Regions from separate parts of the Homo sapiens genome. Here all the other regions are linked to region 1. Evidence: fine-mapped expression QTL. A gene starts in region 1. Each other region holds a variant in brackets. All regions are shown on one strand. Distances are between the middles of the regions. Region 1 holds the start of DAPK2 (death associated protein kinase 2). Region 2 overlaps DAPK2 (death associated protein kinase 2). Region 3 overlaps DAPK2 (death associated protein kinase 2).

Evidence for each region. PIP is the estimated chance that this variant, and not a neighbour inherited with it, causes the effect.
Region 2: its variant is the best candidate, but not a certain one, in a credible set for the expression of DAPK2 in esophagus muscle (GTEx, PIP 0.72).
Region 3: its variant is the best candidate, but not a certain one, in a credible set for the expression of DAPK2 in aorta (GTEx, PIP 0.68).

Annotation. Positions count from the first base shown.
Region 1 is chr15:64,043,742-64,054,112 of GRCh38, reverse strand. DAPK2 (death associated protein kinase 2) reads left to right here and starts at 7,628. Exons shown (of 12, transcript NM_014326.5): 1 at 7,628-7,815. RefSeq lists enhancers at 3,108-3,654, 9,195-9,244, 9,295-9,344 and silencers at 7,455-7,664, 7,685-7,744, 7,775-7,994.
Region 2 is chr15:63,974,559-63,984,929 of GRCh38, reverse strand. DAPK2 (death associated protein kinase 2) reads left to right here. Exons shown (of 12, transcript NM_014326.5): 3 at 1,176-1,397. Among named protein-coding and RNA genes, the nearest start is that of DAPK2, 67 kb to the left of the region's middle. The variant T/G (reference allele first, on the strand shown) is at 5,525.
Region 3 is chr15:63,902,370-63,912,740 of GRCh38, reverse strand. DAPK2 (death associated protein kinase 2) reads left to right here. Exons shown (of 12, transcript NM_014326.5): 10 at 544-633; 11 at 750-833; 12 at 4,141-5,705. The coding sequence ends at 4,221. Among named protein-coding and RNA genes, the nearest start is that of MIR422A, 37 kb to the right of the region's middle. The variant C/T (reference allele first, on the strand shown) is at 5,732.

The sequences.
Region 1 (10,371 bases):
TCTTGTTCCACACTTGAGCCCCAAGACCACCAGTTTCAACACTGAAAACTCTTTCTTTTATTTCCAAGAAACATTATTATAAAACTGCTTCATGACTTTTCAGTTTCATGTAGCTATTGACTTCCTATTATGAAAGACGAGGACTTAATTATTTTTTTTTGAGACAGACTCTCACTCTGTCACCCAAGCTGGAGTGCGGTGGCATGATCTCGGCTCACTGCAGACTCTGTCTCCACCTCCTGGGTTCAAACGATTCTTCTGCCTCAGCCTTCTGAGTAGCTGGGACTACAGGCGCACCATGCCCGGCTAACTTTTGTATTTTTAGTAGAGATGGGGTTTCACCATATTGGCCAGGCTGATCGCGAGCTCCTGACCTCGTGATCTGCCCACCTTGGCCTCCCAAAGTGCTGGGATTACAAGGCGTGAGCCACCGCGCCTGGCCACTTAATTCTTATACTTTTCCCCAACCCCATCCTTCTCTCTATTGAGACAAGACAAAAATCTATTGTTCACATGATGATGACATGTAAATATTATTCACTGCTCAAAGCTGAGCCATAGTGTATTATGATGACATTTCCTTACTTATACACCTTTTTGTTTTTTTCTAGAAATAATAATCACTTTATTTATTCATTTAATTTTTCTATGTACTTACAATAAATTCATCCCCAAACTTTCCTCTCAAAGAGTGCCACTCAGTAGGTGAAAACAGATTGCTTGATGTATGAAGTTCACTTTTTTCTTGGAGACATTGCCCCTGGAGCCTGCTGTGCCCCTGGGCTGTCGGGTCTGATTGCTCTCTAGGCCTGCTGTACGCCAGGCTTCCCTTCCCCGGGAGTCTGGGAATTCTGTCCACCTTTCTCCTGTGTTGGAAGCTCTATGATGAGGTGGATTACTCTGGGTGTGAAAGAAGATGTATGGCTCCTGGCCCTTCAGCATTGAGCACATTCTCGTGTCTCCCAGTATCATTCAGGTTCTTGCCAACTCAGCACAAAAGGTGTGCTGGAGGGTGAGAGGGACACAGCATCAATGAAGCTGGAGCAGCAGGAACCAAAGGGGCTCCAGAGGCTGGAAAAATCATCTGTCCAGGAGGCCTCGCCTGCTGCTGACCCCACTGTGAACATCTTGGCATTACTTATTTGGGATTCAAAGTGCTGGGCAGAAATATCTGATTGGCCATGCCTAAGTCTTATGGACACGAGGAAGGAAGATTTCCTCCCTTCAACTCTTTTTTTTAGAGACAGGGTGTTGCCGCTGTGTCACCCAGGCTGGAGTGCAGTGGAGCAATCTTAGCTCACTGCAGCCTCGACCTCCCAGGTTTAAGCGATCCCGCTGCCTCAGCATGCCACCAGGCCTGGATAATTTTTGTATTTTCTTTTATAGAGACGGGGTTTCGCTCTGTTGCCCAGACTGGTCTTGACATCCTGCGTGCAAGCAGTCTGCCTGTCTTGGCCTCCCAAAGTGCCTCCATGCCTGGCCTCCCTTCAACTTTGGTGGTGAGGGATGGTGCATTATATCCACTTACACAGCCACCATAGTTATTTCCTCCCAGATAGGAAGCAGGGATTGGAAACTGGGCAGCAAAACTAAATGTAAATATCCATCATGCTCTTTGATTGAATCTGTTTCCCCATCTATATAATTTTTAAAAATTCATATTGGTCTCAAAAATGCATTCAGCTTGAGGATTAAATGAGATAATTAGAAAACAGCACAGTGCCTTGGCTCATGATAAATTCTCTACAAATTTTGATTTGATCTGGGTGGAAGGATGAAAATATTTTATGTAGTTGGAGTGATGGAAACCAAGGCTAAGAGGCCAAAAAAATCTCATGAAAGAGAAGGGCTGAGGGAGCCTGGAGTCCTTTATCTTGGAGAACAGATCTGGAGGGGGCAGAGCCGGGCCTAGTCCTGTTTGGGGCAGAGGCCACTATAGATGGTTGAACTTAGCCTCCTGTGTCTTTGTTTTCCTGGATGCAGCTGTTCATAACTGGGTCAGGACCTGGGCTCAGCTGAAATGGAGTCACCATGCAGGTCAGGGAGGGCAGAGCAGGGCCCCAGGCAGAGCAGGGCCCCAAGTGGGAGGACCAGCCCACACAGAGGTCAGAGCTCAGGCGGGGGTGTGGAAGGAGCTGCTGTCCTACCCATCCTTCCTGCATGGATCCACCAAAGGCCCCTGATGACTCCGACTACATCCCTGGCACAGAGTGGGGAGGGTGACAGGGGTCACTCAGGGGACCCATCAGCAAACACAGAAAGGTGAAATCATATCTTCAGCTCAGCAGATATGGCTGTGAATTCTTAACTAATGAGATCTAGGAAGAGGTCCTTTCCTCTGAGGAGTCTCCCTGCCCCCTGCCCACCTTCCAGGCACTCAGGGTCCACCCCTCCCATGTCTGGGCTCCTTCTGGGATCTGCCTAGCCCCTGATCTGGCCTCAGAACACAGGATTCCAGGCATTTTGTTCCCAGGGTATTTCCTCTGCTTGGCTCTGAGTTCCTGCAGGGCAGGGCCAGTGCCTCATTTCTTTCAGGGCCCAGCCCAGAGTCTGGCCCAATGGGCACCGAGAAAGGATTGAAGAATGAATGAAGTTGGAATTGAGCTGAACCTTGGATAGATAAAGGAGAAAAGAAGAAAGCATTTCAGAGACAGAGGCAGGAACAACATGGCTGGAAAGATAGGGCATACGTGACCGACTGTCTTGAGGGATGGAAGGATCTGGTTTGGGAGGGAGGTTGACATTTGTGCCAGTTCTCTCTCTCTCCCTCTTTATCTCTGTCTCTCTCAAACCTTTCCTATGGTCCTGAGCCAGTGCTCTCTCAAACATCTGCCACAGTGTTTGTGAGTCTGGTCCTCACATCAGCCCTGAGAAAAAGACGTAATTATTCCCATTTTACTGATGAGATAACAGAGGCTCAGAAAGTGGATGAGCAGGAATACAAATAGGCCTGTCTGATTCCCGAGCCTAAAGAAGAAGGTGGTTGGATGTTGTAGCCCTAAAGGTGGGTATAGTTTGAGGGGTCCTGGCCACACAATGTGTCACCAGCCTCTGTCCTGAATAGAAGGCAATGGCATATGCATGGGTCATGATCCCATAGCGTAGGCCCTGTGCTGGCTCAGGTGGAAATAGGGGCGGTGAATGACAAGTGGTTTCATACCTGCAGCCCTTTACATGCACAGCTGCTCACACCCCATGTGCCCTGCCTCCCTTGCCCCACTGTGGACTTTTCTGTTCTCCCGGTGATCCCTACTCTTCTTTCAAGTTTGAATCAAGCTTTCCTTTTCTCTGGAGGCTCCTTCTGGAGTAGATCTGACCTTTTATGGCATTGGGTCTTTATTTGCCCCTACTCCAGCACATAACCCCAGGAGGTACTATTGAATGTTTGCGGAGTAAAAGAGTGTGTACACATGTCCAGGAAATCCCCATCCCCCAGGTTCTCTAGAGAGAGGCAAGGCCTCCCATCCCCCAGCTCCTTCCTCCCTTCTCTCCTCCCCTTCCCTGCCCCATCCCTGTGGTGCTGAGTCCAGCAAGGCTAGAGGCTGAAGCAGCTGCCTCTGGCTGCAAGAACCAGTGCCCCCGGGGGTGGGGGGGGTAGCAGGAAAGGTTGCCAAACCAAGCCTGCTCCACACCTCCCATCTAGGAGGGCAGATGGCACAGGGCAGAGTGGGCATGGCTGGGAAGGGCTGAGAAGCCAGGCCACCAGGTCAGTTTGGGAAGAAGCAGCTTCCTGCCGGCCTTCCATCCAGTAGGCAAGCCCTCTGGGGAGGAATCACCTGTGCACTCCCTTGGCCGAGAGCCTGAGAGTCAGGACTTGACCCGTTGTCAAGAAGACTGCATTTCAGACTGCATTTGGCAATTCTCTGGGCCAGGCTAGGGGTGGGATGGGGCGCAGAGATGAATAAGATCCATTTCCTCCCCAGGGGAGCTTATTGCCAGACATTTAGGGAATAATAATAACAGTTAATAATCATTGCGGACTTTACCAAGTGCCAGACACTGATCGAATTGAAAAGTAACTGCATGCTCACAACAACCCAAGAGATAAATGCTACTATAAGCTCCATTTGACCTATGGGGATAATGAGGCACAGAGAGATCAAATAGCCTGCCCCAGACCACATGGCACGTAAGTTGCATGCTGGGATGCCTGAGTGTGGGCCCAGGCAGTCTGGCATCAGAGTCTCTGCATTTAGCCGTCACACTACACATGCTGTAAGCCAACCCAGGTGCCATCTGCCATGGCCAACATGCAGCATCTTAATCCCCACCTTGCCCCCTTGTCAGGAGGTTTTTAGGCTCTGTAAACTTGCCAGGCACCAAAGTATGCTTTAGGATATCACCATGACTAGTGCCCTTTGCTGCCTGCCATGGTTACATCTTTATCTATGGGCTTGTATTCTCATCCCTGGGAAGCACAGGTCCTGTGACTCTACCATCTCACAGTCCCTTGGAATGTCTTTTACAAAGCAGGTACTCAGATGTGTTTGTCATTGAGGGGGTTGAGAATTTCCCTAGGTCTCTGTGACATGAACAGACTGGGTCTCAACCTGTGCACTGGGAATCACCTGGGGAGTTTAACAAAAACTGATACCCAGAACTCATCCTCAGAGGTTCTGATGTAATTGATGTAGGGTGCAGTCTAAGCATGGGGGATTTTAAGCACCCCATGTTATTCTCAGTTATTCTGATGTACTGCCTGGACTGAAAAGTTCCAGATTAACACTGTTTTAGAAATCTTGGAAGTTTCAGTTGAGGGAAGGCAGCAGAGGGAATAGCTTCAGAGACCAGTAGGCAAGATTCATGTCACAGCTCAGCCACTTACAAATTGGATGAGTTTGAGCAAATCAAATTTCTCAAGCCTCAGTTACATCATCTGTAAAAGAGGATAATGACATCCCCCTAGAAGTGAAGCACTTGAAGTAAGATTATTGAGCATCTACTAAGTGCCAGGTGCTTGGGTGCTCTTAGGGGACAATAGAAAACAAGACAGCTATGGCCCCTTGTGATATTTACCTTCCTTAATTCAGTTTAAGAAACCTTTACTGGGTTTGGGATATCAAGCACTGTATGGGTTCAAAGATGGACAAGAAATTGTACTTGCCCTTGAGAAAAGGAGAAGTAGACACTAATTAAAATAGAGGAAGGAAGATGACAAGAGATGTACCAACCAAGAGTGGTGAGGTTCAAAGGAGAGAGGTATTTAGAGGGCAGACCAGGGAAGTTTCTGTGGAAGACATGATACTTTAGAAGGCTCTTAGAGGATAGATAAGATTTTGTAGAATGGGATGAAGGGTAGTGGAAACGAACAAAAGCATGGAGGCAGGAACAGCCAATAATCCAACCTGGCAAAAGAGCTGGATGTGCATGCAGAGGAGGGAAGGGAATGTGCATACACAGCAGGAAAATAAGGGTTGGGGCCTTAAATGCTAGGGTGAGGCATTAACACTCGATTTGGTCAGCCATGGGAACCATGCAGGGACTGGAACTGAGTTGGATAATTCTTAGCTCTTAATACCTGGACTGCCTCTGGCTTCATTCTGGAATTTGTGTCTTCATTGCCACTGTCCTCGGGGCCTCCCCTTTTCTGCTGATGGCCACCTTGGTCCTGTGTTCAGTGCCCTGTCGCTGCCCTCAGGTGAGGGTCTGATGAACTCACCCAACCTTAAGCATAAGATGCATCTCCAGATGGTAGCTTCCTAGATAGTTGCATTCTGGCAGGTACAGTGGAAGGGGCACCAGACTGAATCTGGAGGAGGCCTGGTTCTAATCCTAGCTCTGTCTCTCACCAGCTATGTGATGTTGGGCAAGTCACCTCCCTTCTCCGAGCCTCAGTTTCCTCATCTGAAAAGTGGCCAGGGTCAATTGACAATGACCCTTCCAGCTGCAATGGACTCTGACTAACTTGTCAATTGCTAAACCCAAGAATGTCTCTTTTGACTCATGTAAGGGGCTGCTGCTGCTGACAATGAGGTATTAAGCATGAGGCTCAAGGGAAAGAGATGGAGAGGCCACATGTAGGTGATCAGCAGGGTCAGCTGAGCCCAGCCTTGGATTCATCACAGCCCAGGTACTGGGTATGAGAATGGAGAAATCTCCAGATGATTTCAGCCCCCAGCTATTCAGGTGTTCCCAGTTGAAATCCCAGACACTGCAGAGCAGAAATAAGCCATACACACTGTGCTGTCTGAACTTCTGTCCCTCAGAATGCATGAACATAGTGAAACTGTTGTCCTGTGCCACCAAGGCTGGTAATGGTTTGTCACCAGTGATAGGTAAATGGAAATGGAGGAAGAGGTGTTTAGGGATAGTTTGGTGGGGGACTTCTCATGTTGGTGAAACTTCACCAGTGGGTGTCATTCCCTTAGGTCCGTTGACATCAGAAACCACCTCTAGTCTTGGATATTACTCTATATATCATGCTGCTCTTAGGAGAGGAGGCTCGCTGGCTGCACTGTTCTGAATTATTGTGAAGTTTATAAACAAGGAACTCTTTGCCGAGGATGTCCTGGACCCGGAGGCACTGCTCAGCTGGGGGGTGGGGTCCATCTGTATTTGTCCCAATGTCCAAAAGGCTGAAGGGTGTGTGTGTGCTCACACTGGTAGAGGTCCTCTAGGTGCATCTTACACACTCCATCTCATCTCAGCCCCACCATAGCTTCATTAGGAGCTACCGGAAGGTGCGTTTCTCCCACTTTACTGATGAAGAAAGAGCCATGCCCAAGAACACACATGCGGAGTGGCAGGGCAGGGCTTTGAACCTGGTGGTAGGACTCTGAATCTAAGGCCCTTTTGAGGAGCCCCATGGGTGACTTAGGGATGGAAATTCCAGGGGTTGGAGGGGTCCTCATTTGCTTCCTCTAAACAGCCTCTTGTTTTGAAATAAGACAAATGAACTTGGCTTAAGTTCTGTTTTCCCTTCCTTCCTCCCTTCACCCCCTCACTCTCATTCCTTTTTTCCTCAGGGATTTTTTGGCAGAGGGCAGAGAGAGGAACCCATTCCCAAGTCCTCTATTAGAGAAGGCGTGATGGTGAGAGGGGGGCTTCACTCAGCAACCGTGCCAGGACAAAGGGCAAACGAGGGCAGGCCGCTCTCAGGCTGGGTCGGGGGCAGTGAGGAGCAGAGCGGCCCTTCTCATCGCAGCCCCCACCTTGCTGTACGCTGTGGGCTTGAGGTTTCCAGGAGAGTCTGCGGTGTAGGGAGCGCTCTGGCTGGGAGGGAGGAGACGGCCTATTCCTCAGTGGGGCTTCCTCGCTCACGGTGTGTATGGTGGGGAGAGGAGCACACAAGTACCATTTTCTGAGGATTGTGCCAGACCATGTCATACGTATAAGCTCATTCAAATCGATTTCCAGATAAGGCCGGGGGAGGGTAGCCGACTTGCCCAAGGCCACGCAGCATGTGCGCGGTAGAGCCGGTAGGGACGCGCAGAGGGTCTTGCTACCGACTCTCCCCGCTCTCCCGGGAGTCTGGGAGCCCTGAGGTGTCCCCTACCCGGCCGGGAAGCTGGGCTCTCGCCCCGGGACTGTCCGGAGGGGGCTCCAGCAGGGGGCGCCCCGAGCCCCGTCCCGGGCAGCCGGGCGCGCCTCCAGCCGGCGCCTGGGACGGGGCTGGCCGCTCCGCCCCCTCGGCTCCTAGGCTGCTCGGCGGGCGGGTGCCGGGCGCTCTGGGAGGAGAGGACTGCAGGGCCGAGCCCAGCGCACCCCGCCGCGTCCCCCGTTCCCGCCGCGCCCGCCGCGCCCGCCGCGCCCGCCGCGCCCGCCGCTCCCGCCGCGCCTGCCGCGGCCGCGACCGCGGCAGCTCAGCCTCCCGCCGTGAGTAGCACCCGTCTGCGGGCTCGATGGGCGGGACGGGGCGCGCGGCCTGACGGCAGCAGCGCCCGGGTCTGGGGCTGGCGGGGCGAAGAGATCCGGGGCACTCGCTCGCAGATCCCGGGCCCGCCGCCCCAATGCCTGACGCCGTGGCCCGGGGCATTGTGGCCGGCACCCGAGCGCGGGAGCTGCCCGCCGCTGCCCTGGGGCGCCCTCCGGAGCCTGGCACTTTGACCTGGGAGACAGGGTAGAGGCGGCGGGCAGAGCCAAGCACCCAGCAGGGAGATGGGAGACAGACGTCCATCGAGTTAGGCCCCCTGGAACGGGCAGAGCACGCCCGGCTCCCGGCCAAGTCTTCTCAGCTTGGGCTGACTCTCTCACCTCTTGCTCCCGCCTGGCACAAGGATGTGATGCGAGGAGGGTGCTCAGATGTCTGAGCTTCCTCTGGGGCTGAATGAAGCTGGGGTCCCCGCCGTCAGGCGCCCCGGCCTGGGGTAGAGCTAGGATGGGCGTGGGGGCGGCCAGCAGGTGTGCTGCAGGTTGGGGTGGAACGGCTTGGAAGGGCGTTGCCAACAGTTGACTAGGACTCTGGGCTAGGCATTTTGGAGGTCCCAAGGCTTGCATAGGTCTGGCTAACCCTCACCGTAACTCTGCACGGTGGAAATTGGTATTCTTACTTTACAAAAGAGAAAACAAGGTCCAGAGAGGTGAGCCTCGTTGAGGCCGTGCAGGTAATGGTAAGGCAGTGGTGCACACTGGAGGAGAGGGCACCATAGCTGGCTGCCTCGGGGGCAAGCGGGCAGGTGCAGGGACAGCGCCTGACATCTTGTATCCTGGAATCCTGTGGAGGGCAGCCACTCTGGTTTCTGACACTGCGACTCCCAACTGCCTCTGTGGAAGATATTCCTGGGAGAGTCCTGTTGACCTAAGAGGCCGTGGTGCCTTGGCCTCTTCACAGCTAACTTCACAGCCCTGTCCTTCCCCAAACCGCTCATCTCCCAAGATGTTTTTTGAGCACCCTCAAGTGGCACCACTGATGATTCAGCACCTTCAGAGGAGACTTGGGCAGAGGGGTCAGGGGTGTGTGGATGTGGCTGGAGGTCTGCTCCTCTGGGGTAAGTTCCTGGCTGGCAGGAATGAGACCCGCACTGACCCTGCCCACCTCCTTGAGGCCTCCCGATTTGTTAGCTGTGGGGTGAACAAGCAGGCTTCCCAAGGGAGCTGGATCTTTGCCAGAGAGACCAAGTTTTTCTTGTGTCAACTCAGGCAGGTGGCTGACCTTCTGTGGGCCCCAGCTTCCTCATTGGAGACTGTGATGGGTCAAAGCCTGGAATGTAGAGAGGAGCTCTGTAATGCCGGAGCCCCATCCCTTCTGTTGGCAGCCTCTCCAGAGCCTGAGTGTGATGATTCCTAATGGGGGTGTGTGTAATGAGACGGTCGTGTGTGTTTTGCCCAACCATTGCCTGCCCTCTTGCTGTGGTCCCGTTTCACTCACTTGCACTTGGTGAGGTGGGATGAGGAACTGAGAGAGTTCACTTTGCAGAGTGAGCTGGGCCAGTGGTGGAGAGGGCTTCTTGAGTGTTGAGAGTTTCCTATGAGGTGATCTTCCAGCCCTAGACACCTCCTCCTAGCTTGTCCCTCAGGAGGCCACTGACTTTGCCAACCCTGGTGACATCTTGGAGGAGTTGGGGTGGCTATCAACAGAAGAAGCCCTGGGAAGAGGAGCGGGATGGGTCACCTGTATGATGCTCAGTGAGTCCCTTCCCCTTTCTGGATCTCAGCTTCCTCTTGTAAAAACAAGTGGGTTAGACCAGACAGCAGTGGTTTTCAAACTTCTGTTTCACAGTGAATTCTTACCCAGAACGCCAACATATAGTATGGATAACGTGGAACTGCTCTGGCTTCCCCTTCTCACCCTGGTGATCCTGAAGCAGTTCTAAAAATCCCTAAATAGATGATCTATGGGGTTCTAGGAAATCTGTGGTAGCCCCCTGAAGTGTTGCCTGGTATTAGAGTTGTAGGCAGGAATTTGAATTCCAAGGACTCCATCAGGAGAAACATGGGCATTAAGGTGGGTATCATCCTGGGAGCATCTGGAGCTGATGGCCTGTGCTTCTGGCCAAAAGTTGTAACTGTGTCCCTTCCCTCTGCCATGTGATTTCAGCTTTTCGAGGCTGGAAAGGTCCTTGTGCCTCTGGCTCCTTATCTGGGTCCTAGCTGGTGACTATAATTCCACTTCAGTTTCACCCCTTTAGTTTGTTTCTAAACTGGTAAAATGCAAATTCGCCTTAGGAGAGGTGTTAGGAAAGTGCTTGAAGTGGCTATCAGTTGTTTTACCTGATGAGCATCTGAGTAGCGGCCTTGAGAAAGGAGGCTGGGGAACTAAGTTAAAATCAGCCAACACTTATATAGTGCCTACTGTGTACTAGCCTACGACAAGGGGACAGAGGTAGGAATGTCACAATTCTTGCCCTTATGGGGCTCCAAGTCACAAAGAGGAGGGAAGGAATTCACGTTATCCATGGACCGTTTAAAACATTACACATGGGTTATCTCATT
Region 2 (10,371 bases), 69 kb after region 1:
TGCCACTCCGGGTATTTTGAAGACTGTCTCACTGAGGATGATGCTAATGATGGAGTGGTTCAGATGCAGTGCTATTTTGCTATTTTCTGCATTTGGGGCAAATATCCCAGGCATTTCCCTGTATGTAGCTTTTAACCCAGAGCCACTAAGAGTGTACCTCTTAAGTCTGGAGTCTGCTGGCCCCTTATTGAGCCATTAAGCTGAACCAGAAAACTTTCTGAGTTACTCAAGCAGTGGGTATTTTGGGTGGCAAGAAAACATGGGGCAATGATGGCAAATGGCAGTAAGGGGACGGGAGGACCCCCGGGCAAGATGGTCACTGGGAAGTCTCTGAGGACTTAGATCTGCTCCTGCTGGTCACTGAACTGAGGTGCAGAAGCAGGTGGTTGGTGCCCTTCCCTGTGGGGAGGGCCCCTGGAGCACTCAGGGAAGCTGGCTCAGGGCTGCCTGCCACTCTGCCATGGACTCCATTTCATGCTTGCTGTCTCTGTCCCTGGAGTAATGGGTTTCTGAGCCCAGCCCTGGGTACTAGTGCCTGAAGGGGAATAATAATGGTCTAGACTGCTCTAACTATCTCAGAGGCTTTGTGGACAGCCGGTTGGGTATCTGACTTTGAGGCTTGGCTTTGCCATTAACTCTGCGATGACCTCAGGCGAGTCACATGACCTATCCTTATGCCTCAGTTTCCTAATTGTACAACTCTCTGTTTATACCAAGTCCTCTGACTGTGATGCTCCCCCACTATGATGATTAACCTTGTTAGGCTGCCTCCTCTCCAAACTCTACCCAAACCTGGATCCCCACCAGCCCAGTCTGCTTATGGACATTGTGATTTCATCTGGTGGGTCCTAGACTTGGGTTCTAGCTGAGATTTTGCAATGACAAGGCTATGTCATCCTGATCAATAACCTTTCTGGGCCTCAGTGCTCACCTCTGTACACTGGGACTAAGAATACTAACATTCATTCCTCATAGAAGGAATGGACAGAAGGGAAGCCCAGTCCCTGCCCCATCTCATCCACAGGTTGTCATCAGGTGGGGATGCAGACTGGTGGCATGATTTGTCCTGTCCTGGCAGAATCACTCTGAATTTGTGTGACCTGGTAGCTGACAGTGGGGTCATTTCCCCAATGACCACAGTGATGACCTAATCTTGTGGGTCTGTGTCCCCACAGTGGCCAGTTTGCCATCGTGAAGAAGTGCCGGGAGAAGAGCACGGGGCTTGAGTATGCAGCCAAGTTCATCAAGAAGCGGCAGAGCCGGGCGAGCCGGCGCGGTGTGAGCCGGGAGGAGATCGAGCGGGAGGTGAGCATCCTGCGGCAGGTGCTGCACCACAATGTCATCACGCTGCACGACGTCTATGAGAACCGCACCGACGTGGTGCTCATCCTTGAGCTGTGAGTGGGGTCCCCAGGACCCACAGGGTTGGGGGGCAGCAGGGGCAGGCAGAGCAGTGGAAACTCCAGCCACAGGCCCCAGGGGGCAGCAGCAACCAGGCCTAAGCTCAGCCCAGAGGAGGTGAAGTCAGTGGTGGGCAGATCCCCTCTGTCTCAGTTACCCCCTTCCTCCTTACCCGCTTCCTCCTCCTGAAACTGAGCCAAAGGAGGGGCAAGCTTGCTGAATAGCAGGGGCAGAGGGCAATGGCCTAAGTCTGGCTTTCACTGGATCCTGGAGATCAAAGGGAAGAAATGACTGCACTGGGGTCTTTTCCTGGCTGGAGAAGCATGTGGGAGGGTGAGTGGGACAGATGGTGGGGTGGGGCCAGGGGAGGCTGTCAGCGAGGGCTGTGTACTATGAGGAGGGGAAGTACAAACATCTCTGGGCTCTGCGAAGCCCTTCTCCAGCCCTTTCCTGGGGAAAGTCCACTGCATTTGTGCTGTGAATGACACCTTTATTGTTATAATAATAGCTATTATTTAGAGAGTCCTACTGTAAGCCAAGAATTTGCTAGGCGCTTTCTATCTGTCGTCTTGTTCAATCTTTAAAGACTGTGATGAGGGAAATGTCTTACTAGTGCAGACAGGTTATTTTGTATTCATTGTGCAAGCCAAGTACTTCTGTACCTTATTTAATCCTCATAACAACGCTGTCACACAGACACTCTTATTATCCCCATTTTACAGACAAGAACACTGAGAGGCCAGGACACTTACAGGAGCCTATAGCCAGGAAGTGGCAGGACCAGGACTTGAGTCCACACGGCCTGTGCAGACAGCTATGAGTGTGAGGCGGGTTGGCCTTATGCTGGCTTAGCAGAGGAAGACCTCACAGTTCATGATGGAATTTGGATAGATGACCTCAATACTCTAGGGTTTGGCTAGCCACGCTGGTATCGTCCTGGGCAGGTGGGGCTCTGATAAACAATAGAGTTTGAGTTGGGTTGTGGACAAGTTACAGTGGCTGTGTCCAGTCAAGCAGCAAGGACTATATAAAGAATGTTCTGGCCTGGTGCAGTGGCTCATGCCTGTAATCCTAGCACTTTGGGAGGCCAAGGCGGGCAGATCACAAGGTCGGAGTTTGAGACCAGCCTGGCTAACATGGTGAAACCCCATCTCTACTGAAAATACAAAAATTAGCCGGGTGTGGTGGCAGGTGTCTGTAATCCCAGCTACTCGGGAGGCTGAAGCAGTAGAATTGCTTGAACCCGGGAGGCGGAGGTTGCAGTAAGCCGAGATTGCATCACTGCACTCCAGCCTGGGTGACAGCAAGACTCCATCTCGGAAAAAAAAAAAAAAAAAAAAAGAATATTCTGAGGCTCATAAGCATGTATACACCTGCCTGGTAGCGGGAGTGATAGAATCTCTCAGGAATCCCTGATTTTGTGCCCTTGGGCAAGTCACCTCAATTCCCTGAGCTTTAGTTCTCATCTGTAAAGCAGGCAGCCATCCTTAACCTGCCTACAGACTCGGTGGACCACCTGACATTTGAGATCATTCTAATTTGAGAACTATGCTCTGGTATTGGCAGGATATAGATTTAAGTAGCAGATGGACATTTGCATACTCTTGCATTTGATTCTTAAATTATCCATCTCGGTGTTTAAATGTATAGAATTGCCTGTGCTCTTCCCTTCGCTAGCTCCCAGTGTCCTCCATGTTTCTCCCACGGGCCTCCCAGCTGGTTGGACTACTGGATGCCTGCCCTGCGTGACCCAGAGAGAAGCTGAGGGTCAGCAGTCGGCATCCTGATTCCCAGCAGAGAGTGACAAGTGCACCTTTCTGGAAAGGCCGAGCCACTTCTTAAAAAGTTTATTATGGGGAGGAAAAAAAAAAAACTAAGCAGGAATGGACAAGAAATTACATTTATAATCCTACAACCCAAACACAGCTATTTATGTTTTTCTGTGGTTCCTCTCAATCTTTATCTATTTGTATACAATCATTGTACTTGTATAATTTCCTGCTCTACTTTTTTCCCCAATTAACATAATTCTAAAAATTGGCTTTTCTCTTTTAACTGACTATATGTTTCACTGAATTGCATACCAGTATTTCCCTTGTCTTAGTCCATTTTCTATTGCTTATAATAGAATATCTGAAACTGGTTAATTTATAAGGAAAAGGTATTTATTTCTTACAGTTATGGAGGCTGAGGAGTCCAAGGTTGAGGGGCCACATTTGATTAGGACCTTCTTGCTAATGGGGACTCTCTACAGAGTCCCCCAAGGCAGCCCAGTGCATCACACGGTGAGGGGGCAGAGTGGGATATCTCAGGTCTCACTTCTTATATAGCTACCAGTCCCACCCATGTAACCTGTTAATCCACTAATGCATGAATGGATTAATCCATTCATAAGGACAGAGCCCTCATAACCCAATCACCTCTTTTTTTTTTTTTTTTGAGATGGAGTCTCGCTCTGTCGTCTAGGCTAGAGTGCAATGACGCGATCCTGGCTCACTACAATCTCCACCTCCTGGGTTCAAGCTATTCTCCTACCTCAGCCTCCCAAGTAGCTGGAATTACAGGCACCCACCACCACACCCAGCTAATTTTTGTATTTTTAGTAGAGATGGGGTTTCTCCATGTTGGCCAGGCTGGTCTCGAACTCCTGACCTTAGATGATCCGCCTGCCTTGGCCTCCCAAAGCGTTGGGATTACAGGCGTGAGCCACCGCACCCCGACCCAATCACGTCTTAAAGGTCCCACTGCCTAATACGGCCGCATTGGGAATTAAATTTCAATGCGAGTTTGTAGGGCACAAATAGTCAAACCATAGCATCCTTATTGTTGGACACATGCTTTTTATTTCCTAGCTTTTAACCATTACAAATTTTACTGATAAAACAACTTTCTTCTCATGATTTTCTCCTTTTCTTTTTAATTAATTCTTTCAGCAAAGTCCTGAGGATTTAGCTAACATCCCCAGGAATGGGATGACTAAGCCAAAGGCTGACATTTTTGGGACTCAATATCCTCACTTTTCAAAGATGGTGCTGGTTAACCATTACTACCACAACGTAGGAGTGTTGCTGTGTGCCTGCAGCCCTGCCAGCCCTGGGTCATTTGTTTTGAAACGTGTTTCATTATTTATTGATCTTTATAGCTATAAATTGATACTTTCTTACTATAATTGGCATGCCTTTAATTGCTGGGGAAATTGCCTGCTTCTTCCTGTTTGTAGAACCCTAGGAGTCGGTGGCGGGGATGTGGCAGGTAAATGCTCTTGAGATGTCTGTGTTTTTCCCAACAGGGCTCATGGTCAGCCAGTTATGTGCCGGCTTCTTGTGAGCTCAGGTGCACCATCTGTAACATCAGTTGTCACGCTGGTGCTCCCATGACTTGCTTGGGCCTCTGTGCTTATTAAGTTCTGTCCCGTTTCTGTCTCCCCCTTCACTTCCAAGCTGTCTCATTGTTCTCAGGGTGCCTGTCTATGGACTGCTAAGAATTTATGAGATTGGAGAAGACCCAAGCGTTCCAAGACTGTCCCTAACCCATGTATGGCCAGGTTCTGAGAGGGAGGACCTCCCAGGAGAGGAGTTCCTGGGCTTTTGTTTTTGTTTGTTTGTTTGTTTTTTGAGATGGAGTCTTGCTCTGTCACCCAGGCTGGAGTGCAGTGGCGTGATCTCGGCTCACTGCAATCTCTACCTCCCGGGTTCCAGTGATCCTGTGCCTTAGCCTCCTGTGTAGCTGGGACTACCAGTATGTGCCCCCATGCCTGGCTAATTTTTTTTGTATTTTTAGTAGAGGTGGGGTTTCACTCTGTTGGCCAGACTGGTCTTGAACTCCTGGCCTCCAGTGATCCACTCGCCTTGGCCTCCCAAAGTGCTAGGATTACAGGCATGAGCCACCGCACCCAGCCTCATGGGCTTTTGTTGCTTAGACTTAGTGACTCCTGTTAGGCTGGTCAGAAGTCTTGGCCTCGTGGTCCTCACTGGGCCCTAATAGGTTAGTGGGTTTGCCCAGTAAGTGTTAGTATCCACCTACTCAGTTGAAAGCTGCCCAGTTGCAGGTTTTATGAATGAGTCTACGCTGATCCCACTGCCCCTCTCAGCAACTGTTGTCTGGTGCAGGGCTTCCGCCTGCT[T/G]TCTGCTCAAGTGGCCAGCACTAGGAGGACATGCCTGGCTCTGATCTAAATCCCTTTCAGTTGTTATTATCCCATCTGTGACCTCCCTAGAAGCAGCTGCCTCTGGTCGTGACTCTTGAAGGCAGGACTGGGAAGGATTTAATTGTCCATATAAGTTGACTTCTGTATGGGGTATAGAATATATTCAAAATCTCAGCAGCTTAACTCATGTCACATGTGGAACTAGCCCTGAAAAATGTAAGTCTCCCTGTGAAGGTTGGGCTGGCCTCCCATCACAGGCCCCTGACTGCTCTGGGGCCTCCTTGATTCCAAGCCTGTGGAAAGCGATACCGTGGTGGTTGCATACCAGAGAACTGCCTGGCAGAGTGCTCCAGGGTGGCAGTGATGCTTCCCAGGTTCCTGAATTGAGCCCAGCTTCCTGGGCCCAGCAGCTCTGGCAGCATTTTTCCCCTATCGCTGCCTGTGCAGGTCATTCATGTATACATTTCCAGAAGAGTCTGAAAAGCATTTCCAGCAGGCATGCCACCCTGCAGGGAGGAAGGAGGCAAAGGTCAGATTTGCAGGAAGGGGATGATCCTGGGAACACTAGGAGAAGAGATGAGGCCAGGTCGTGAGGCTTTGTTTTTCATCTTAAAGCTAAAGAGATGTGGGATGTAAGAGGAAAGAAACTTGGAAGGAGATGGGGGGTGGCTCCAGGGCAGAGGTCTTAGAGGGTAAAGAAATGACACTCAGGCTCCTTGGTTTGGCTTTGAAAAGAGGTGACTGAGCATTAATGTGAATGTCCCAGCCTGGGTATCCAGGGCCTAGACAGTGGCAGGTCATCAGCCTCCCACCTTTCTGAGTTTCTGGGGGAGATTCTAGGGGGCACAGTGGCTGTTCCCTTCTTCATCCCAAGGAGACCATGTCTCACCAGGTCTCCTGCCCATATCTCACCTTCAAACAGATGACTGATTACTGCACCCCAAAGTCCTCCCTCAACCCCAGACTTCATGTCAGTGGCTTTTGGGAATGCTAAGCTAAGAAGCTTTTACACTGATGCAGCATTTTATTTAAAGTAGGAATTGCAGGGTTATTATTTATTTAGATATTTGCCCGAGGTCACAGGCCCACACAACCTGGCAGGGGCTGGCAGACTAAGGGTGGAGCTGGGTTCTGTGTGTTTCAGAGGGGGCACTGCAGATGTGAAAATTTGCAGAGAGCTCTGGACAGATCTTTCACAAATACCAAGGCTTCACTGTCTATATGATACAGAATATTCTACATCATGTTGTTATTTTTAATGTTTTATTTCTTTCTTTCTTCTTTTATTCACCAAACTTCTGATTGAATGTCTTTCTTGCACTAGGTGCTGTGGAAGCAAAAATAATATAGCTGGGGAGAGAGGAAGATAGATAGTGAAGCCCACTGTGAGGAGAGCGTGGATGCAGCAGAGCAGGGATATCAGAGGACTGCCCAGTGCCTGGGGCTGCTTTGAGCCTTTCCATTTTGCATCAGCACCTCAGGCTTTGTAATGTGGAAGGGTTGTGGTGAGAGGGACACATGGTGAACTGGGGCTGAGAAAATCTGGGTCTAAATCCTGGTCCTGCCACTTACTAGCTGTGTGATCTTGGGCAAGTCACTTGCTCTCCTGAGACCTCAGTTTTCTCATCTGAGAATGAGGATGCCCTCCGGGTGGATATCAAGCTCAAGTGAGGAAATGTTTGGGAAAGCACATTGCACCGGTGGCAAACTTCAAATAAACTCTAAATCAAGCCCCCTTCCACCACTGCCACCCCTGATGATGACACCATGTACGGTGTTTATGTCAAGGACTTTATCAAGAATCTCATAGAGATTCCTCTCACTCCCACCCTCACATCCAAAGCTGGTAATGAAAGCATTATTTTTTTCACTCCTGTTTCACAAGAAGAAAAGTTGAGCCCTAGAACTCTCACATGTCCCACCCCAAGGTGAAGGTTGTATCTTTGCTGCTGAAGGATTGGAGCCATCATCTTGGCCCTTTGACCCCAGTCTGCAGAGCAGACCCAGGGTTACTCCAGCAGCTGGGAGGGTGCTCCAGCTTCCAGCACCTGCCCAAGGTGGGGGCAAGGGTCAGAGTGGGGCAAAGGACGGCCTCACCCATGAGACACTGAGAAAATAGTGCACCAGCCTGGTCCCCAACACCAAGGCAGCCACCTTAGGCCACACCCTACTCAACCCTGAGCAGAGGGGCGCTGCAGCTATGGCAGATGGTACATATGCTCAAATGTGCCATCTTATCTCAGTCTCTCTTCACCCTTTCACCTTCCCCCTTCCCCTTCTCTTTTTTTGCCTCTTTTTTGATGCCATTGATATGTTGGAAAACTAGGCCACTTGTCCTGTTTCACAGTCTGGATTAGACTTGTTCCTTCCTCATGGTGTTCTTTAACTCATTCCTCTGTTCCCTGTATTTCCTGTAACTAGTAGTTAGATCTAGAGGAGATACCCTGCCTATTGGCGCTGTCCAATAGAAATGTAATGTGAACCACATACATAATTTTAAATTTCCTAGTTGCCACACTGACTAAACAAAAAGAAATAGGTGAATTGATTTTAATAATATTTTTATTTAAAATTATTAATGAGATATTTTACATTCTATTTTTCAAACTAAGTCTTCAAAATCCAGTGTGAATTTTATACTTACAGCACATCTCAACCTGTTTTTTTGTTTGTTTGTTTGTTTTTGAGACCGATTCTCACTCTGTTGCCCAGGGTGCAATGGCACAATCACGGCTCACTACAGCCTCGACCTCAGGTGATCCTCTCAACCTCCTAAGTAGCTGGAACTACAGGTGCACATCACCATGCCCAGCTAAGTTTTTTTTTTTTGTAGAGACAGTGTCTCACTATGTTGCCCAGGCTGGTCTTGAACTTCTGGGCTCAAGTGATCTGCCTGCCTCAGCCTCCCAAAGTGCTGAGATTACAGGTGTGAGCCACTGTGCCCAGCCCACATTTCAATTCTTACGCAAAGCAATGCAACGGTTAAAGTGAAATGCAATTCTACTGAAACAATAAAGTTGTATTTAATGGAAAATATTTTATACCACTTCAGTTTTTAAATTAGAATTAATTAAAATTAAATAAAAGTTAAAATTCAATTCCTCTATTACACTAGCCACATTGCAAGTGCTCAGTAACCACATGTGACTAGTGGCTACTCTATTGGACAGCACATATCTAGAACATTTTCATCATTGCAGAAAGTTCTGTTGATAGTGCTGAACAAGAGGCTTAAGCGGATTTAGGTTCCATTTTGTAAGTCACAGCATATCATAGGTGTTGCTGTGTACTTTCTATGTCACTATTTTATGTCCGGTTGTTCTACTTTTCATGATGCTAAGATTATTGAGTGGGTCCAGGTGTGCTTCTGGAAATGTTTAAAGAAAGGAGAAAAGAAGATTTTGATGTTCTTTATTTAGGATGGACTAGGGGGCAGGGAATGATCCCCAAAGTTGGGTTGGAGCCATTTTAGCCATATAAGAATCATCTGGAGCCGAGCGCAATGGCTCACACCTGTAATCCCAACACTTTGGGAGGCTGAGGTGGACGGATTGCTTGAGGTCAGGAGTCCCAGCTTGGCCAATATGGTGAAACCCCATTTCTACTAAAAATACAAAAATTAGCTGGGCGTAGCGGCATGTGCCTGTAACCTCAGCTACTCAGGAGGCTGAGGCCTGAGAATCAGTTGAACCTGGGAGGCGGAGGTTGCAGTGAGCTGAGATCGCATCACTGCACTCCAGCCTGGGCAACAGAATGAGACTCTGTCTCAAAAAAAAAAAAGAAAAGAAAAGAATCATCTGCAATACTCAGTATGCTGTAGTGGTTGAGAGCTGTTCTGCTTGGGTTTGAATCCTGACTCTATTTACTAGCTATGGGACTGTGGGCAAGTTGCTTAACCTCTCTGAGCCTTTGTTTCTTAAAGTGTGAAATAGAAAAATGTTAGTCCTTAGATCATAGGATATTGTGATGATTAAATGAGATAATGTGCATAAGGCATGTAACATAGAGTATGTGTTCAATGAATATTAATTGCTATTATTATGTTGTTAGAGTAAAAATACAGGTTTTAAGGCCTCACTGCTGGAGAATCTAATTTGTTAAAGTCTATGGTGGGATCTGGAAATCTGCATTTTAAAACAAGTTCTCCAAGTGATCCCAAGGTCCTGGATCCCTTGGCCTAGAACCCTTCCTGAGATCTTTCCCTTTGGGCCCATGGCTTTATTTCAGCCCCAGTGGAGCACATGCTGGCTGGATACCCCAGCTTCTGTCAGAGGATTGTAAACCAAAAATTAAATTCTAAGCCCCCTCAACCAACTGAATAGACCCCTCTCTCAGCCAAGGAGATTCCAAAGTAAACCTGAAAAACTTTCAGGCCATGGTGGGAAGAGGGGTTGGACATGCCTCATTATACTCTCTGCCCATTTAAATTCGGGCACAAGTGACCAGCATTAATATGAAAACAGTGAACTTAAGCCTAACAAAACAGACTCTTTGCAGCAATAAGATAATAAATTCCAACCTGACTCTACTATAACATCACATGACAAATAGCAGGCCCTGAAAGAAATAGAAGTATTTTACCCTAATAAATCTTTTGACATATTTTGAAATGGCCCTGCAAAGCTGACTCTTGTGGGAAAAATCTATATTCTGTGGAGAATCTCTGTTCCTTTCCATGTCTTTTTCTGATCCTGAAGAGATTAGCTGAGAGTCTAGCACCTTTTAAGAATATGAATAGTAAACATTTGCCATCTATTGCCTCCAAGGGCAGCCACCTGTGAGACTTCATCTACATAATAAAAACCTTGGTCTCCATAACCCTTGTC
Region 3 (10,371 bases), 140 kb after region 1:
GCCATCCCAAGCTTCTTGGAGAAGTCAAAATTTAAGCTGAGCTCTGACTGCCAGGCTGTGAAAAGCAACTGCACATCCTGTTGCCTCTTGACTTTCATCAAAGCCCTTATTTCCTTCCATTTATTTTTTAATGGAGTATGAATTCCCCGTCTACCAACAAGGCATTTGTTTTGCCAAGCCCAGAATCACCCCAGTGCCCAGAGGGCATCCCAGACTGCTGTAAAATGACCCTCTCCCCAAAGTGATGTGCGATTGGAGGGCCTGCCTCCTGCTATTCCCCTTCAGGAGCTGCTGAGCCTCCAGCCAAGGCTGTGTGTGTGTCAGGCTGTGGTAATAATAGCTGAGAGGCAACTCCTGAACAGCTGAGACATGTGTAGCTGTTGCCCTGACTGTGATGCTCCCACGGTGTGCCCCACCTGGCGGGGAGATGCCAGGGTCAAGCCAAGGGCGGTGGGCATGCGGTGGGTGGGGAGTTCTGCGGCGAGGAGGGTGGCTGCTGTCTGAAGCCCAGCATCAGCTGCCATGCTCTGCTTTGTCTCTCAGCCGGTGGACAACCAGCAAGCCATGGTGCGCAGGGAGTCTGTGGTCAATCTGGAGAACTTCAGGAAGCAGTATGTCCGCAGGCGGTGGAAGGTGTGTCCAGGGTTGGGGCGGCGGGGGACAGGGTGGGGGCTAGGGCGGGGTTTCTGGCTCTCCAGGGTCTCCATGCACATTCTCACCTGGGGATTCCTTTCCTCTGCCTCCCTCAGCTTTCCTTCAGCATCGTGTCCCTGTGCAACCACCTCACCCGCTCGCTGATGAAGAAGGTGCACCTGAGGCCGGATGAGGACCTGGTGGGTAAATGCATGCCCTCTTCTTGGGCAGAATTCTGGGGTAGCCTGGAGCTCAGGGATGGGTGAGTTCCCTTTCCCCTCACAAGGCAGGTGGGTGTTCACTGTTTCCAGCCAGTTCTGCTGGCCCAGTCCTCCTCTTCCCTGAAGGCTGAAGTGTGATCTTCAGAGGAGTGTGTTCTGGGGACCTCTGGGTGGTGCCGGGAGGGGACCACTGATGCAGCAGCATGAACTCCTGGAGGATCTCCCATCCTTTCCTGGTGGGCCTTCAGAGGGGCCGCTGCTGCCGGCTGACCACAGACAACCCAAAATGTATTTCTGATAACCCAAAAGCTGCTTTAGAATGGGAGCTTTACATTCTTTTTTCCATATTTCTATTTCTGCTTTGTTTCAGATTACCATCATCATAATATTTAGACAATATCTTATATTTGATTACTTTATTGCCATTTTGTATACATTTAAAGGGAGTAGCTTATAACAGAATATACTGGTGAAGAGGGTGCCCTCTGCAGTCAGACTACCAGGATTCAAATCTGCCACTTACCGTGTGACCTTGAGGAAATTACTTAACCTCTCTGTGCTGATAGTTCATCATTTGTAAAATAGGGTTAATAATAGTTCCTAAAGATTAAATAATGACATATTCTTCCTCTTCTTCTTCTTCTTTTTTTTTTTTTTTTTGTTTGTTTAGACAGAGTTTCACTCTTATTGCTTAGGTTGGAGTGCAATGGCGCGATCTCGGCTCACCGCAACCTCTGCCTCCTGGCTTCAAGCGATTCTCCTGCGTCAGCCTCCTGAGTAGCTGGGATTACAGTCATGCGCCACCACACCCAGCTAATTTTGTATTTTTAGTAGAGATGGGGTTTCTCCATGTTGGTCAGGCTGGTCTCGAACTCCCGACTTCAGGTGATCTGCCCGCCTCGGCCTCCCAAAATGCTGGGATTACAGGCATAAGCCACCATGCCAGGCCAATAATGACATATTCTTAAAGCCTGGCATGTAAGTGCTCAGTAAGCGTTAGCAATTGTTGTTGTTTAAAACCTTCCTGTAGGCTGGCAGTAGTGGTTCGTGCCTATAGTCCCAGCACTTTGGGTGGCTGAGGCGGGAGGTTCATTTAAGGCCAGGAGTTAAAGACCAGCCCAGGCAACAACAGTGAGACCCTGACTCTACAAAACAAAAACAAACAAACAAACAAAAAAATTAGCCAGGTATGGTGACAGGCACCTATAGTCCTAGCTACTCAGGGAGCTGAGGTGGGAGGATCACTTGAGCCCAGGAGTTAAAGGTTACAGTGAATTATGATCACACTACTGCATTGCAGCCTGGGCGACAGAGCATGACCCTAACTCTAAAGAAAATTAAGTTTCAAAATTAAAAAAGTAAAATCCTCCTGTAGACTTTAAAATGCAGTTGGTAGGGGTTCCCTGGACAGCCCCTCCCCCCGCTTATGGAGCGTGGTGTAGGGTGCTCAGGAATGTCTGGGATGGCACAGGTCAGGACAGAAGGGGACGCCCTGCTCAGGGAGCGACTGGGAGGTGGGTGCCTAAGAGGGCTGAGCAGCCTTATGATGCACGGCTAGACCTAGGATAGCCCTGCTGTCCCCACTCCCTCCACACAGCCTGGGGTCTTCTCTCTTTAGCATGATCTCTTGCCAGCACTTGAGGATTTATGGCCCAGAGGCCCCAAACAACTGTGTGGCTTTGGCCAAGCCCTGTGCCGGCTCTGGCTGCTTTCCTCGTCTCCTATGCAGGGCACTGGACCGCTCTCCCGCTGAGAATCCCTGATAATGACAAGCAGACTTTACCCAGCTTATTTTTTTACTGTTTGGCTCTGACTCAAGCTAAAAAGTTGCTATTCAGCAGAGCTTGAGTTATTTTTATTGTTATAGCCGGGCTTGGTCTAGGATGTATTTGGCTAAAGTTGATCTTGACCTTGGATTTCCAGCTGGCTCAGGCTGGAGGAAGGGGAAAAGGCCCTGGGAGGATGAGTGGCAGATGGTGGGCATGCCTCGCAGGCTGAGCCGCTGGCCCTTCTTCCCTGACAGATACAATCTGTGGGGAGAGAAGACCAGAGTAATTGAGAAGAATGTCAATTTTTTTTTTTTTTGAGACAGAGTCTCACTGTGTCTCCCAGGCTGCAGTGCAGTGGCACCATCTCAGCTCGCTGCAACCTCTGCCTCCCGGGTTCAAGAGATTCTCCTGCCTTAGCCTCCTGACTAGCTGGGATTACAGGCTTGCACCACCATGCCTGGCTAATTTATGTATTTTTAGTGGTGATGGGATTTTGCCATGTTGGCTGGGCTGGTCTCGAATCCCTGACCTCAGGTGATCCACCCGCCTCGGCCTCCCAAAGTGCTGGGATTACAGGCATGAGCCACCACGCCCAGCCAAAAAGAATGTCAGTTTCTTTCCAAACTTTTGTTCTTGTACAAATATTCTTAAATAGTACTCTTTTTACTCAAATAGCAAGCACCATCAGCTCAAAGGTTCATCCTAGAAGTGGAAAAATGTTGGGTCCCAGATATCTGTTATGCAGTTTTCCCAAAGGGACTTTCCTTAAAAAAAAAAAAAAAAAGAGTAATGATAGGTCCTTTTGTTTAGGAAGCACTGGAATTGAACATTGGACAACAGATATTTTAGGAATGAAGTCACTGTGGATTAGTACTTCTTTTAATAATTTTATAATTACATTAGATCATCATGACTTGGATGAAAAGACATTATGGCCTCGGGGTGGCTGCCTCAGCTCTGGTTTGCCATGTAGGAACTGACAGACAGTACTTTATACTCATTTCCTGTTTTATAAAAATGGAGCTCAGAAGTCATTTCCCTGGAAACACTGGTCAGCAAGGCGGCTGAAGGTGCAGCCCATCAAAGAAGAAGGGGCATGGGATGGTGGCTGTCAAGCATGGGGAGTACCTTGTGGCTCACACCCATCCTCCAGTCTCTCTAGGCTGAGCTCAGGAGACCCAGCAGCCACAGACCACCCAGCCAAGTGGCCTTGATTATATGGCAGCCACAAAGGGAACTAGATGTAATTTTCTTTATTATAATTTGGCCTCTCCTGATGTCTGGTTTCCCTTAGATGCCCTGCTGCTTTCCTTCCTCCAAGCAGTTGGTCTGGCCTCGTTTCAGATCCCTCCCATCCCCCAGCCCCTGGATGGATCAGCAGGCTTGCTTTCACCACCCACCTCCCTGGCTTGTAGTCCCGTGGTCCAGGTGAATCAACCCAGGTTGCCCAGCACAGCCCCATTCCTGGCGTCTCATGATCCTCCTGCCCTGGACCTCTTTCTCTTTTTTTTCTCCAGAGGAACTGTGAGAGTGACACTGAGGAGGACATCGCCAGGAGGAAAGCCCTCCACCCACGGAGGAGGAGCAGCACCTCCTAACTGGCCTGACCTGCAGTGGCCGCCAGGGAGGTCTGGGCCCAGCGGGGCTCCCTTCTGTGCAGACTTTTGGACCCAGCTCAGCACCAGCACCCGGGCGTCCTGAGCACTTTGCAAGAGAGATGGGCCCAAGGAATTCAGAAGAGCTTGCAGGCAAGCCAGGAGACCCTGGGAGCTGTGGCTGTCTTCTGTGGAGGAGGCTCCAGCATTCCCAAAGCTCTTAATTCTCCATAAAATGGGCTTTCCTCTGTCTGCCATCCTCAGAGTCTGGGGTGGGAGTGTGGACTTAGGAAAACAATATAAAGGACATCCTCATCATCACGGGGTGAAGGTCAGACTAAGGCAGCCTTCTTCACAGGCTGAGGGGGTTCAGAACCAGCCTGGCCAAAAATTACACCAGAGAGACAGAGTCCTCCCCATTGGGAACAGGGTGATTGAGGAAAGTGAACCTTGGGTGTGAGGGACCAATCCTGTGACCTCCCAGAACCATGGAAGCCAGGACGTCAGGCTGACCAACACCTCAGACCTTCTGAAGCAGCCCATTGCTGGCCCGCCATGTTGTAATTTTGCTCATTTTTATTAAACTTCTGGTTTACCTGATGCTTGGCTTCTTTTAGGGCTACCCCCATCTCATTTCCTTTAGCCCGTGTGCCTGTAACTCTGAGGGGGGGCACCCAGTGGGGTGCTGAGTGGGCAGAATCTCAGAAGGTCCTCCTGAACCGTCCGCGCAGGCCTGCAGTGGGCCTGCCTCCTCCTTGCTTCCCTAACAGGAAGGTGTCCAGTTCAAGAGAACCCACCCAGAGACTGGGAGTGGTGGCTCACGCCTATAATCCCTGCGCTTTGGCAGTCCGAGGCAGGGGAATTGCTTGAACTCAGGAGTTGGAGACCAGCCTGGGCAACATGGCAAAACGCAGTCTGTACAAAAAATACAAAAAATTAGCCAGGTGTAGGGGTAGGCACCTGGCATCCCAGCTACTCCAGGGGCTGAGGTGACAGCATTGCTTAAGCCCAGAAGGTCGAGGCTGCAGTGAGCTGAGATCACGCCACTGCACTCCAGTCTGGGTGACAGAGAGAGACCATATCCAAAAAAAAAAAAAGTTGCCAGAGACGAGTATGCCCATGCTCCCTCTACCTCACTGCCACCACTCCTGCTGTTAGGAGCTGAGTGTGTCTCCCTAAAATTTCTATGTTGAAGTCTTAACCCTTGGTACCACAGAATATCACTGTATTTGGAGATGGGGTCTTTAGAAAGGCACTTAAATTAAAATGAGCTCACTGATATGGGCCCCGATGCAATATAATTGGTGTCCTTATAAGAAGGGGAGGTTAGGACACGCAGGAAAGACCACATGAAGGCCCAGGAGTGGGAGGGGGAATAGCCATCGACAAACTAAGGGGGCCTCAGAGGAAACCAACCCTGCTGACACCTCAATCTTAGACTCTGGCCTCAAAAATTGTAAGAAAATAAACTTCTGTCTTTTAAGCCACCCAGTCTGTGGTACTTTTTTTATGG[C/T]GGCCCTAGCAAAATACACACTTGCCAACTACAGCCAAGATGGGGGCAGGAGAATTCCTAACGATGTGGGCGGAGAAGGGCGAAGAAGGATCCACGGCGAGAAGGGAGAGGAAAAAGACGGATGACCTGGCCCCTTCGGTGGAAATGGCAAGGGAAGCTCACTCAATGGCATCGAAATGTGGGCCCTGTTTTTCAGGCCAAAAGAACAGTGTTGCTGAGCAGCACTCAAGAGACGACCCATGGAAGTCAGAAATAAAGTCAGGGCGAGGCCGGGAGATTGGGAAAGCACATGGGAAGAGGCTGAAAGAGAAGTTTTGGAAGGTGAGGAAACTGAGCTGAGGAAGTGAGCCAGGAAGGAGAGAGGGGGGAAAACTATTATTAAAAGGAAAGGGTGCTGGGGAAAGAGGTCCCAGTTCCCTTCGTCAGCAGCCAGTTGATGGGTCCAGAGCAAAATGACCCCACAGGAACAGCAAGGCGACCCAGTTTCAGAAAAGTGTCGAGCCAGAAATGGAGTGAGCCCACAAGCTGGCTGCAGAAAGCTTAGCAGCTGACCTGGACTTCTTGAGCTTCCCCAGATCTCAGGCAGAAACAGTCCTGTGCCTCCCTCCACCCTGGGAGGATAGCAGAGGCCGAGAACTGCCAACTGTGGGCAAGGGCCCTGGGCCTGCGAGGGGCTCTTGGCTATGGTTGGTTACATAAATCAGCAGGCATGTTCTGGAACAGGGCTCACTGGGAGCTCCTAGGAAGTCAGTTACGGTAAAGGTGGGGCTGCCCTCCTGCTAGGAAGAAGAGCAGGAAAGACCTTTGACAAACCCAGTCTTGATCAGAGAGCCTTTTACAACTTGTCTAGCCCAACCACTATGTTTCACTGAAGAGGAAACCGATGCCTAGAGAGAGGAAGTGACTAGTGCTTCACACAACAAATTTGTGAAAATATCTAATGAAAGCCCAGACTTTCTGGCCCCTAGTAACGGTGCTCATTTCTTCAGCTGATAAACTGCAGTGGACCTTTCAGGAAAGGATGAACCGTTCGCTTTGCCTCATTGTTAACGAGTCTCATCTATTCTTGACTGTGGCCTGCCTCATCCTTCATTCTTGGAAATGGAAGAAATTGACACACTTGCTTCTGCCCATCTTTCACAGTAAAGGACACTGCCCCTGGATGGGGGCATCTCAGCAGCCCACCCCCACAGGCTGCAAGGCAGTCAGGGAACCAGTATTAATCGGGCTCCTGCTGTATGCTTGGCACTGTTCTAGATGCTGGGTTGGAACAGAGCAGGACAGACACAGACCCTGTCCTAAAGGGGTCCACGTTCTCTAAGCCCTGGGAAACCAGGACTCCATCATGCCCATATCTCCTCCTGGCCCTCTTCTCATCCAGGTTATATAAAGCACTGCTGACTGAGTCTTCTTAGCCCAGCTTTCTGGTGTTGGATGGCACCTGCTGTGTTTCCTAGAAGCCCTTGGGAAGCACAGGGCCAGGCAGTGGGCAGAGGGGGGCCTTTGAGGATGCACAATCCTTTGAGGATGACTTTGAGGACCAGCAGCCAGAAGCCAGGCACCCATGCGCCTCCCAGACAGGGGCCCAGTCCCTGTGGCCTCTGCTAGCAGACGACTGCGGCCCCCAGGTGTGAGGATGAGCGCAGCAGCTGGCCCAGGGCGCCACGTGTGTTCTGTTGGCTCTGAAGAAGGATGTGTTGACCAGCTGACACTTACAGGGCTGAAAGAGACCACAGCATTCTCAGAGGCAAATGGAACATTCCAGTGATGAAAGCCATGCCGGTTCAAATGCAATTCTTTCAAGAGGTCTGGAGGGTTCCTGCCCCAGAGTGTGTGCTTATGTGAGTGTTGGATGCTGCATTAATATTTCACAAATATCCATATAAATATTTTAGTGTGTTGCATTTCGATGTCAATCTCACTAGCTTTCCTGACTCCAAATCTTAGATTGCATTTGCCTTTTCCCTTCGCATATTTATTTGTGAAAACCTTATTTTGGAAGCAAATGAAGGCCATACTGTAAGAGGTGAACTACAACATCTCTATGAAGGAAAAGTCAGGCCCTGGACTCCACAGACAATCAAAGTAAGTACACGTGAAAGAGCTAACTTGAGGACTTGTTTCTCACAGGGAATTCTATCTGGCACAGGATTGGAGAACTTTCCTTCCATAGAGTCCCCAACTTGATTTCATCCTGATATTGTTCTGTTCACTGTAGCTGCACCCCAAAGGAAAATGTCTTCCTTGGTGATCTGCTGAGAGGATCCCATTCTAAGCAAACATTAATAGGCTTAGGGATTGAGCAGCTGAAGATCTGTGAACAATGGTTAATTGACATTTCAAAAAGCAGACACACCATTGGTGAGTTCCCCTTAACAGTTTCTCTCCTCCGGTTTTTCCCTCTCCCACTGGTTCTTCTTCTCTCCCCCTTCGTCCATTAGCAATTCATAATATATAGCTGAAGTATATATTTTAGTCATTTATTTACTTACTGAATGAAATTCATGTTCCCAGTTCTTAATCTAAAAAGCAGTTGATTATATTATCTAGGGAGAAATTTTTTTAAAGTATTTTTTCCTCTATGGGTCAGTGATCCTCCACCCCTAAGCTAGAGGAAGAGTGAAAGAAAAGAAAATGAAGCTCATAATAATTGTTTAAAATCTGCTCTGCAATAGGAACATTTTGCATACATTTCATTTAGTCCTCTTCCTAATCTTGTAAGGGAAATGAGAGCCCCATTTATATGATACAGCTGAGATTCAGCGGAGTTAGGAAATTTGCATGCAGTCACACAGCTGGAGTACTTAGAATCGGGATTCCAGCCCAGTTTTGCCTACCCTCAAATCCACATTCTTCTCTACTTTTCCTGGAGAAGTACGGTGTTCAATGAAAAAGTAATCCCGGAGAACTATGTACACTATTATACTCTTTTTTTTAAAGCTCACAAACTATGCCATAAGTTGTTTAGGGATACATGTGAATGTGATAAAATTTAATTAATTAATTAATTAATTTTTGAGACACAGTTTCACTCTTGTTGCCCAGGCTGAAGTGCAATGGCGTGATCTCAGCTCACTGCAACCTCTGCCTCCCGGGTTCAAGTGATTCTCCTGCCTCAAACTCCCGAGTAGGGATTACAGGTGCATGCCACCATGTCCAGCTGATTGTGTATTTTTAGTAGAGCCCTATGTTTCAGCATGTTAGCCAGGCTGGGCTCGAAGTCCTGACCTCAGGTGATCCGTCTGCCTCGGCCTCCCAAAGTGTTGGGATTACAGGTGTGAGCCACTGCACCTGGCCTAAAATTGAATTTTAAAAGCAAGGGAATGACCACTCTCAAAATTCTGGATGAAACTTACATCTGGGTGGCTGAGATGGGGAGGAGGACAAGGTGGGCACTGGGCTGTTGGCAGTGTTCCAGCCAACACTAAGTTCACGGTGGGCTCCTGCAAGTTCTATTTATTATAATGCTTTCTAACTTACATATTAGTTGTCTATGCTTTTGCATGTATCAAATATTATGTTAAAGATAAAGGGAGAAATGAGGTGAAAAAAGTCCATCCTAATGGTCACCATTTGCCGCAGCAGCCTCTATTAGGGACAGGACGTAGTGCCCCTCCCTGCAGTGTTTTTCTCACACGACTCGATGGTGGGCTTTTTTTGTGTTCTTCTACCAGCACCTAGATCAGAGGTCATCACACCACTCAATGTGAGAATACCTGGCTGGAATTTTTATTTCCCTTTTATTTATTTATTTATTTTTAAATTTATTATATATATATATTTTTTAGATGGAGTCTCGCTCTGTTGCCCAGGCTGGTGTGCAATGGGGCAATCTCGGCTCACTGCAACCTCCGCCTCTTGGGTTCAAGTGATTCCCCTGCCTCAGCCTCCCTAGTAGCTGGGACTACAGGCGTGTGCCGCCACGCCCAGCTAATTTTTGTATTTCTAGTAGAGACGGGGTTTCACCATGTTGGCCAGGATGGTCTCGATCTCTTGACCTCGTGTTCTGCCCGCCTTGGCCTCCCAAGGTGCTGGGACCACAGGTGTGAGCCACGGAGCCCAGCCTTTATTCCCCTTTTAAAGAGAAGGGATAGGAAATACCCTCTGCACCTCCCAGCCCTGCCTCCTCAAACATCACTTCCCCTGGGAGTTTGCGTAAGGACTTGGGTCTGAGGACAACTTCCAAGGCCGACGAAGCTGAGTTTGCCAGCTCATGCTCTGGTGCCTTCATGTCTCTTTGGATTTAAACCCAGAGGCCAGAACAGCATTTGAAAAGTCAGCTGGGCCATTATCCTGCTCCTAGATGGGATTGCACTTGGGTTTCTTCGTCTCATTTTGGAATTGAGCCAGGGAGATCCTATATCATCTCTCAATTCCCTTTTCCAGTTCTTAACAGTCTTTATTATATTTTACCAATCAGATCCAAAAAGCCTGGGCTAAGTCCTGCCACTTTGCAGCTGTTGGAACTTAGCCTTGTCATTCAACCTTTCTGGGCCTCAGTTTTCTAATCTGTGAAATGGTGATATCAGTGTTACTTGTCATGAGTGCCTTGTTGAAACCAATTTTGTAAACGAGCTTTGTCAACTTTGAAGGACTTGGCAAGCATAAGGAATTTGTTTTTACACAATTTAGTTACACTC